Linked DNA regions of Homo sapiens: all the other regions are linked to region 1. Evidence: fine-mapped QTL for protein levels in blood plasma. A gene starts in region 1. Each other region holds a variant in brackets. All regions are shown on one strand. Distances are between the middles of the regions.

Region 1 (2,749 bases):
CATGTGAATAAGTATGCATGTGTGCGTGGACGTGTGTGCATGTGCGTGGAGACATGTCTCTCCTTGCCAGGCTCTCACCGAGAGCCGGCCTCAAGTAGGGATTCTACAGTTCCACGCCCTCTCTGGTGCCTCCCTCCAAAGACAGGAGGCCTTGACCTTTCTGGCCCTGGAACCATGGCTGTGCTGCTGTCCTGGAGCTCTGAAAGCTGGGACGGTGACCTAAGGGCTAACTGCGGGACAGAGCCCTTCCCCTCCCAGGCCCAGTTTGCCTCTCTGCAAACAGAATTGCCACCCCATGCAGGGTGGGAGAGGCGCCAGGGGCAAGCTTTCAGGAGGTGCCAGTGCAGGGTCAGCTCCTCCTTAACAATTCTGCACCCGGCCCTGACACCAAGTCTAAAGGGTCATGAACCTCTGAGTGAAAACACCAAGTGCAGGATCTGTGAGAACCGGCAACACCCAGTCACACGCAGAGAACCCTCCGCTGCTTCTTAAAAATAACATTGACTGTGCCTGGCTCTCACTGAAAAACAACACGTGCTCACTTGAGATATTTCAGAAGATACAAACGCAAAGACAAACAAAAAACCACCCAGCACCTCAGTGGTAGATGCAGTTACCATCAGCCCGGCCTTTCCTGCTTGTCTTCGAGGGGTGCACTCTTATCTTTGGGGGCCCCAGTGTGGCACGCAGCCAACACCACCCAACACCAGGATCTAAGAGAAGAGACCACGGTGGGCCGGGTGAGTTCCAGGAATCAGACCCTGCCATGGGCCTGGGGACATAGAGGTGGTCCCGGCTGAGGCCCTGAGGAAGGACAGACAGGCAGCCCAGGCCAGCAGCCCAAGAGACAGGGGGCAGGGCTGGCAGGCCACAGGGTGGGGACCCTGAATTCAAATACTGGGACTCAGAGTCCTGCCCCCACCTGCCAAGGCCGGTGTCATGCACGCACTTGCCCCCAGGGCCTGAGTGGGTCAGTCTTCCCCACGGAGGGTTTGCTTTACCCAGGGGTCGCCCCGAGGTCCCGAGCCTCCCAGGAATTTCTCCTGATGCGGCCACGCAGATGCAAACACTTTGTTCCATGCCTCCTAGTCTCCGGCCCGGGCTCTTCCTCACACAGACCCAGGCAGGGAGTGGGCTCCGGGGTTAGTCTGCCCCTGTGGCTGGAAGCCTGGCGTCCCCATGCTCAGGGCTGGGAAGGGGGCAGCACGGAACGGGTTCATTCAGGCACTGCCTGGCCAGGGTCCCCTCCCGCCCCCCGCGTGATGACACGCCTTCAGGGCGGGCCCAGCGTCTCAGGCCTTAGGGACACAGGTCTGTCCCAGGACGGCACTGAGGGCCCAGGCGCCTCCACCAGGGTAGGGACCCAGGGCGGAGCATGGCCCCACCACAGGGCGCGCGCCCGCAGAGCCCTCACCTTGCCTGTGCCCACGCCAGGGGACTGAGCTCCCCGCGCGCCCGCGCCCTCCCACGGGGCCTGGCGCTTTAAGAGACGCCCGATTTGCATGGCCCCGCCCCCCCGAGTGACCGCCGGGCTGGATATTTAAATCGTGGCCCCAGGGGCGGGGCTGGCCCCGAACGCGGTCCCGCCCGGCGCTTTCCTCTGCGGAGCTGCGGCGAGAGCGCGGCCCGGCCGAACGGGCGCGGGACGCGGAGCCCCCGACGGCGCGGCCAGCGGGCGCGCCCGCGCTCCCCGCACCCCGCCTGGCCCTGCCGGCCACCCCCGCGCGCAGCCTAGTCCCCCAGCGCCCTGCTCCGCCAGCGCCCCGTCCCGCCCGCACACCTCCGCGATGCGGCACGGCGTCGCCTGGGCGCTGCTGGTGGCCGCGGCCCTGGGGCTTGGGGCGCGCGGGGTGCGCGGCGCGGTGGCCCTTGCCGACTTCTACCCGTTCGGCGCCGAGCGCGGCGACGCCGTCACCCCCAAGCAGGACGACGGCGGCTCGGGGCTGCGGCCGCTCTCGGTGCCCTTCCCGTTCTTCGGTGCCGAGCACTCCGGACTCTACGTGAGTAACCCCCGGGCTCGCGGGGCGCCCGGGAGGGGAGGGAGCTGCGCCCCGGCCGCTGCCCGCCGGGCCCGGACTCCCGCCGCCGCCGCCAGCCACTTGGCACCGGGGCGGCCCGAGGTGGAATGAGGACAGCGCTTCCTCCTCGGCGGCCAAGGCCGGACAGCGGCCCGCGGGAGAGGCGCGCGGGCGGGGCGGGGGCGGCAGCCGCCGGGCACCGAGGCGGGGGCGAGTGGAGCGCGGCGCCCCGGCCCCTGCCAGACCTGCCGAGCGCGTCTTCCCGGCGCCTGATTCCCAGGGGAGAGCAGGGGTCCTGGTACTGCCCTGGTTTTCACACATGGCAATGTGGCCGTGGGCACGGGCTTCCCGGGCCTCAGTTTCCCAAGTGGGGCGCCGGGCCTGCGAAGGTTGCAGCCCCTCCTTGGGCCATTTCAGCCCCGCCCCCCGTGGACGCCAGTGCGGCCCAGAGCCAGGAGGCTGGACCCCTTGCCCAGGCGCTCAGGGCAGGGCCTGCTTCTTCGCTGACCCTCCTAGGCGGGCTAGCAACAGGCTTGCCCCTCCCTGCCGTCCTCTCCGCAGTCTGGGGGCTGGCCGCTCAGGCTCAGACTCTCCAAACAGGACTCCCAGTGGGACTCCTGGGGCCAGGGACTCATGACAGCAGGCTCAGCTCAGCTGAAGGAACAGGCCCGAGTGCCGGTTCTGTCTCCATGGCTCCCAGAGTGTGACCCCAGGCCAAGCCCTTATGGCAG
Region 2 (2,749 bases), 91 kb before region 1:
ATGCTGACCAGGGACTTCTCCCCTTCGGACAGGGTGGCTGGTGGTCCTTTCCGATTCCACAGGGTGGGAAACAGTGCAGGTTCCCAGGGCAAGGGTGGACCCATGGGCAGGTGACTCTGAAGGGCTCTAGCGGGAGTCAGACTCCAGAAGGACTCACAGGTGCAAGGCCAGGAAGACAAGATTCCTTTGCCCCTCAGGCAGGCAGCGTCCCTCTCCAGGTCTCAGTCCACCACCTGCGACGACCACTACGTTCTTTGACAAATGTTTTTCAAAAGTCATAGTTTATGAGTCCAGATGAAGGAAGACCAGTGCTCTGCATGCTGCCTCTGCCCACCGTGTGTCCAGCAAGCACACGGCTCCCCCTGGAGCGAATGCGGGAGGGGGTGTCTGGGGGAAAGGCCAGCCCCTCCCAGGTGCCGTTGCTCAGGTAGACAGTTTTACCCAGGGCGTCTCCAGGTCTCCAGGCAAAACTGCTTCCAGCCAACAGCGTTCCTTTGTCCCCACAGCAACAGGGTCCTGCACTCCTGTTTCCAGGGAAACCCAGCTCTCAGCGTCCCGGTTGCCACAGCAATGCCTACGGGCTCAGCTGGCCATACTGTCTTACCCACAGGGCAAGAGCAACTGGGTGCCCAGGCTCGGGACACAAGACTGCAGAGCCAGGTGCCACACAGGTGTGGGGCCCGTGGACCAAGGAAGACCCTGGCCAGTTGGAGGAGAACTGCCAGGTAGCAAAGCCCAGACTTCTCTGGGGTCCTGCGCTCTGGGCTGCAATGAGCTCTGCCTCCAGTGAGCCTGGCAATGGGGACGCCTCCCAACAGCCCCTACTGGGGCTGGACACCGTGATCCAGGTCAGTGGGGTGGTCACTTCCCTGCACCCTCCTGAGAGCAGGTTGCCAGGACACTTTGGAAGGGACGCGGCAAAGAGAGGGGATGGCCAGGAGGCACCTTCCTGGCTCCCGGGGCACTTTCCACTTGCTCACGTGTTTGCCTTGAGCGTGCAGCCAGTCACGGATGCAAGCAGGCGCGCCTGCATGCACACACAGGCAGCCTTCAGCCAGGAGAGAGAGCCTGGGGAGAGAGGGCCCAGGGCCGCTGCTGGCTATAGACATTCAGGTGGCCGGTGTCCCTTGCAGCCACAGGTTTGCGGGGTGGAGAGAGAGCCCGGGGCCGCTGCTGGCTGTGGATGCTCAGGTGGCCGGCGTCCCTGGCAGCCACAGGTTTGCAGGGTGGAGAGAGAGCCCGGGGCCGCTGCTGGCTGTGGACGTTCAGGTGACTGGCGTCCCTGGCAGCCACGGGTTTGCAGGCTGCGCACTGGGGTGGGGATGGGCAGGCAGCCCTTGGTGCTGACATTCTGGGACCTCGTTCACTGCCCTCCCATGGCCAAGTGTGGGGCCAGCAGGGCCTCTCGGGGG[A/G]CAGTGTTTCCATCGCTGCACATTTGTGGGAGGCTGTGGCTCAGCCCTAGTGTCTATTCTGTGGCTTCCAGATGTTCTGGTTCTGTCTTCGTAGCACCTGGTGTGTGACAACAGTGGCTGGGAATTGTCCCGTGTCCCTCTCCCCTTGCCTCCCTACTTCCCAGAGCCCACCTAGGACCCAGCCTGCGGTCCCACCTCGGATATCCCTCCTCCCTGCACTGCCGTCACCTGCTGCTGACCACCACAGCCAGGCGGCCCCACCTCCAACGGACCCCTCGGGACCCCAGGGAACCCCTGACGAACTGGCTTACTCATGGTTGCTTGTTAACCCAGCTCTTAGCATCTCAAAACTATGCCACGGCAGGCTGACATGGCCCTATCCAAACAATACAGATCACCTGAAAAGAGAAATGGCCACAGCTGGTGCAGGTGACCGAGTGACAGGGTAGATGCAGGGTTTGCTCACACACAGGGCTGCATGAGGACTAAGGGCAGGATATTTGAATCAGGCGATGCAACAAGACAAAGAGGTGCCGTGGGGTGAGCTCTACCTCCTCCACCTGGGGTGAGCTCTACCTCCTCCACCTCGGGTGACCTCTACCTCCTCCACCTGGCGTGAGCTCTACCTCCTCCACCTGGGGTGAGCTCTACCTCCTCCACCTCGGGTGACCTCTACCTCCTCCACCTGGGGTGAGCTCTACCTCCTCCACCTGGGGTGAGCTCTACCTCCTCCACCTGGGGTGAGCTCTACCTCCTCCACCTGGGGTGAGCTCTACCTCCTCCACCTCGGGTGACCTCTACCTCCTCCACCTCGGGTGACCTCTACCTCCTCCACCTGGGGTGAGCTCTACCTCCTCCACCTGGGGTGAGCTCTACCTCCTCCACCTCAGGTGACCTCTACCTCCTCCACCTGGGGTGAGCTCTACCTCCTCCACCTGGCGTGAGCTCTACCTCCTCCACCTGGGGTGAGCTCTACCTCCTCCACCTCGGGTGACCTCTACCTCCTCCACCTGGGGTGAGCTCTACCTCCTCCACCTGGGGTGAGCTCTACCTCCTCCACCTGGGGTGACCTCTACCTCCTCCACCTCGGGTGACCTCTACCTCCTCCACCTGGGGTGAGCTCTACCTCCTCCACCTCGGGTGACCTCTACCTCCTCCACCTGGGGTGAGCTCTACCTCCTCCACCTGGGGTGAGCTCTACCTCCTCCACCTGGGGTGAGCTCTACCTCCTCCACCTGGGGTGAGCTCTACCTCCTCCACCTCGGGTGACCTCTACCTCCTCCACCTCGGGTGACCTCTACCTCCTCCACCTGGGGTGAGCTCTACCTCCTCCACCT
Region 3 (2,749 bases), 37 kb after region 1:
CCCTGACCTGCCCCGCCCTGCCCCTGCAGTCCCCTTTAACAGCTGCAACAGCAACAGAAATGTCCTCTGCTCCTTGTGCCCTGCAGTCTGGCCTAGCCAGTGACACAAGGGACCACAGCCGGCAGGAAACCCCGGGTGTGGAGGGAATGAAACAGGACAATGGCCACAGGGTCAGTGCTCCCCAGGCCCGAGAGTGCCTTTGGGCTGTGCGCACCCCCACTCACCTCCTGGCCACCTGCTTTCTCTTGGGTTCATACTTGCCCCTGGCCCCAGGGGAGGCCCAAGAGCCCAGAGGTGAGCTGCCGGAGGACTGGGCTGGGGAGCCAGGGCCAGCCCTCTCCTTGGCTCCCAGGAACGGTTGGCTGAGGTCAGGACCTGGCTGGGAGGTTGCCGACCCTGGCAGGAACATGGTGGGGGCAGGGTAACCCCCACCTCTGTAGACCTGGGGAACTGGCCTCCCTCACTCTGCCCCCACCCCACCCCCAGGCTGGCTTCAACGCAGGCGATGGGCAGCGTTACTTCAGTATCCCCGGCTCGCGCACAGCAGACATGGCCGAGGTGGAGACCACCACCAACGTGGGTGTGCCCGGGCGCTGGGCGTTCAGAATCGATGATGCCCAGGTGCGCGTGGGGGGCTGCGGCCATACAAGTAAGAGGACAGAGGAGCAGCTTGGGGTGGGAGCGGGCTGAGGAAGGGGGTTGATGGCAGAGGAGAGGTGGAGACGAAGGGGGCTGGATGCTGACGGGGAGAGCAGGAGCACTTGGGTGTCCAGCCCAGCCCACCTCAGGC[G/A]TGTGAAACTAAGGAAAGCCTGGCTGGTCCTGCAGCCTCAGCTTCCCCTAGAGAAGACCCCACACACACACTGCTCTGGGTTGGAGGGAACCCTCTGGAGACTGTGCCCTAGAGAAGATCCCGCACACACACTGCTGTGGGTTGGAGGGAACCCTCTGGAGACTGCGGGTTTCGGGGGTAAAGAGTTCTGGGTCCTCAGGGGAGGAGGAGCCCAGGGACACCTCTCCCTGGGACCATGTGGTCCCTACTCTCCCCTTATTCCCACCCAGCCTCCTGCCTGGGCTGGGGGAGGAGCAGCATGTGGTCTCTGACCCTCAGGGCCACCCATGAGGCAGGTCCTCTTACCACCCAGGTCCTCATTTTTGCCAGCGGGCTTGCTGCTTGGTGGGATTTGGTGACTGCTTGACAAACCCAAGCATCACGTCTACAGGGGAGTTCCAGGGGTCCTTCCAGCCCACAGTGCACAAACGGACGGGGTGGGTGTCCCTCCCAGGGGTGGGCACGTGGTTTGTGGGAACAGCCAGGGCGGCAGCAGAGCCATAGATGGTAGCCTTAGCCCTGCTGCTGTGCGGCCTTGGGAGCCAAGGAGCCTTCAGAAATCACTGCTTACACTTGGGGCGAGGGCAAGCGACTGATCCGCTCCACTGAGGGCGGCGCATCACAAGCCCTGCCAAGCCTGGGGCCGCAGTGAGGCTCGCACCGGGACCTGCCCCAGACTCGCCTCCCAGCCGCGAGCATCTAGGCTACGAGAGGGGAGAGGGGCCGCATCTCCGCAACACTGAGTCCCCAGAGAACACGACAGGGGTAGCAGATGCGCGCGCACCACTGTCGGGGCGGAGGCGGGGTGCAGGCGCGCCATGGGGTGGGGGATGAGGGGTAGAGAGTGTGGGGGTGGGGGATGGGGTATGCAGGTGCGCCACAGGGTTGGGGATGAGGGGTAGATGGTGTGGGGATGGGGGGTGCAGGCGCGCCACAGGGTTGGGAGTGAGGGGTAGAGGGTGTGGGAGGTGGGGGCGTGCCATGGGGTGGGGGGTGCAGGCGTGCCACGGGGTGGAGGGGTGGGGGGTGCAGGTGTGCCACGGGGTTGGAGGTGGGGCGTAGTAGGGGTGGGGGGCGGAGGCGCGTCACGGGGAGGGGAGTGGGGGGTGGAGGTGCGTCACGGGGTGGGTGGGGGGTGGAGGTGCGTCACAGGGTGGGGGGTGGGGGGTGGAGGCGCATCACGGGGTGGGGGTTGGGGAGTAGAGGCGCGCCACGGGGTGGGGAGAGCACCGCGCGCTCATGGGAAGAGGAAAGATGCAGTCGCAGGGCGGGAAGACCCATCTGAGGGCTGCAGGTGGTGCCGCGACGAAGGAGGCCCGAGGAGCCCGAGCTACCCACACACTGGGGCACGAACAGGCCCCCGCTTGCATCTGAGCTTAGGGAGTCCGGGCTCACGGGGCGGGGAGCCCAGAGCGGCCGCCCAGCATCCGAGGGACACAGCCCTCCTGCAGCCCCCAGCCACACCCCCTGCGTGGCCCGCCTTGTCCCAGAAACGCTGACATGACGGCTGAGTGCCAGCCTCGGGTTTTCCACGCCAGGAACCCTGGAGGGGAGGCGGAGTGTGCCAGTTTTTAGACCTGTCCACGGCAGCGCTGAGAGGGATGGAGGGGACGGGGTGCTGGTGTGAGTCGCTTCAGGGAGTCCGCCCCACACGAAGCCACCTCCCCAGAGGCCACGCCAACAGCACCGCCCCTGCTCCCCTGCTCCCCTGCTCCGACCTAAAGTGAAACCTGAAACCTGGCTGCTTTGCTGCGGTCACCCGGGCACCCAGAGGCCGACCTTTTGGGTCAGGGGAGGGAAGGGAGATGCGGATGGGAGTGGCTCTCCTGCCGAGTCCGGAGGCAGCGGCTGAGGCTCCAGCCCCTCCCTATGTCTGCAGCGTCCGTGTGCCTGGCCCTGCGCCCCTGCCTCAACGGCGGC

Direction of the effects. Positions count from the first base shown, and alleles are read on the strand shown. Strength reflects both the effect of a copy and how common the allele is. Not every link is listed here.
In carriers of allele A in region 2, the plasma level of the protein whose gene starts at base 1,568 in region 1 tends to be higher than with G alone (moderate association).

Evidence for each region. A credible set is the group of variants that fine-mapping cannot tell apart. PIP is the chance, under the fine-mapping model, that this variant and not a neighbour inherited with it causes the effect. Protein levels are from antibody-based Olink assays in UK Biobank. Linkage for the fine-mapping came from a reference panel and not from the study's own genotypes, which makes the PIPs less certain.
Region 2: its variant is the best candidate, but not a certain one, in a credible set for the plasma level of the SNED1 protein (UK Biobank, PIP 0.65).
Region 3: its variant is the best candidate, but not a certain one, in a credible set for the plasma level of the SNED1 protein (UK Biobank, PIP 0.63).

The regions. Positions count from the first base shown.
Region 1 is chr2:240,997,051-240,999,799 of GRCh38, forward strand. It overlaps SNED1 (sushi, nidogen and EGF like domains 1), which reads left to right and starts at 1,568. Exons shown (of 32, transcript NM_001080437.3): 1 at 1,568-2,000. The coding sequence starts at 1,788. RefSeq lists a silencer at 1,200-1,619.
Region 2 is chr2:240,905,744-240,908,492 of GRCh38, forward strand. It overlaps CROCC2 (ciliary rootlet coiled-coil, rootletin family member 2), which reads left to right and starts at 593. Exons shown (of 32, transcript NM_001351305.2): 1 at 593-848. The coding sequence starts at 771. The variant A/G (reference allele first, on the strand shown) is at 1,413.
Region 3 is chr2:241,034,082-241,036,830 of GRCh38, forward strand. SNED1 (sushi, nidogen and EGF like domains 1) reads left to right here. Exons shown (of 32, transcript NM_001080437.3): 4 at 487-649; 5 at 2,709-2,749. All of the region lies in intron 1 of SNED1-AS1 (SNED1 antisense RNA 1), which reads right to left. Among named protein-coding and RNA genes, the nearest start is that of SNED1-AS1, 29 kb to the right of the region's middle. RefSeq lists enhancers at 19-962, 963-1,904, 1,905-2,749. The variant G/A (reference allele first, on the strand shown) is at 791.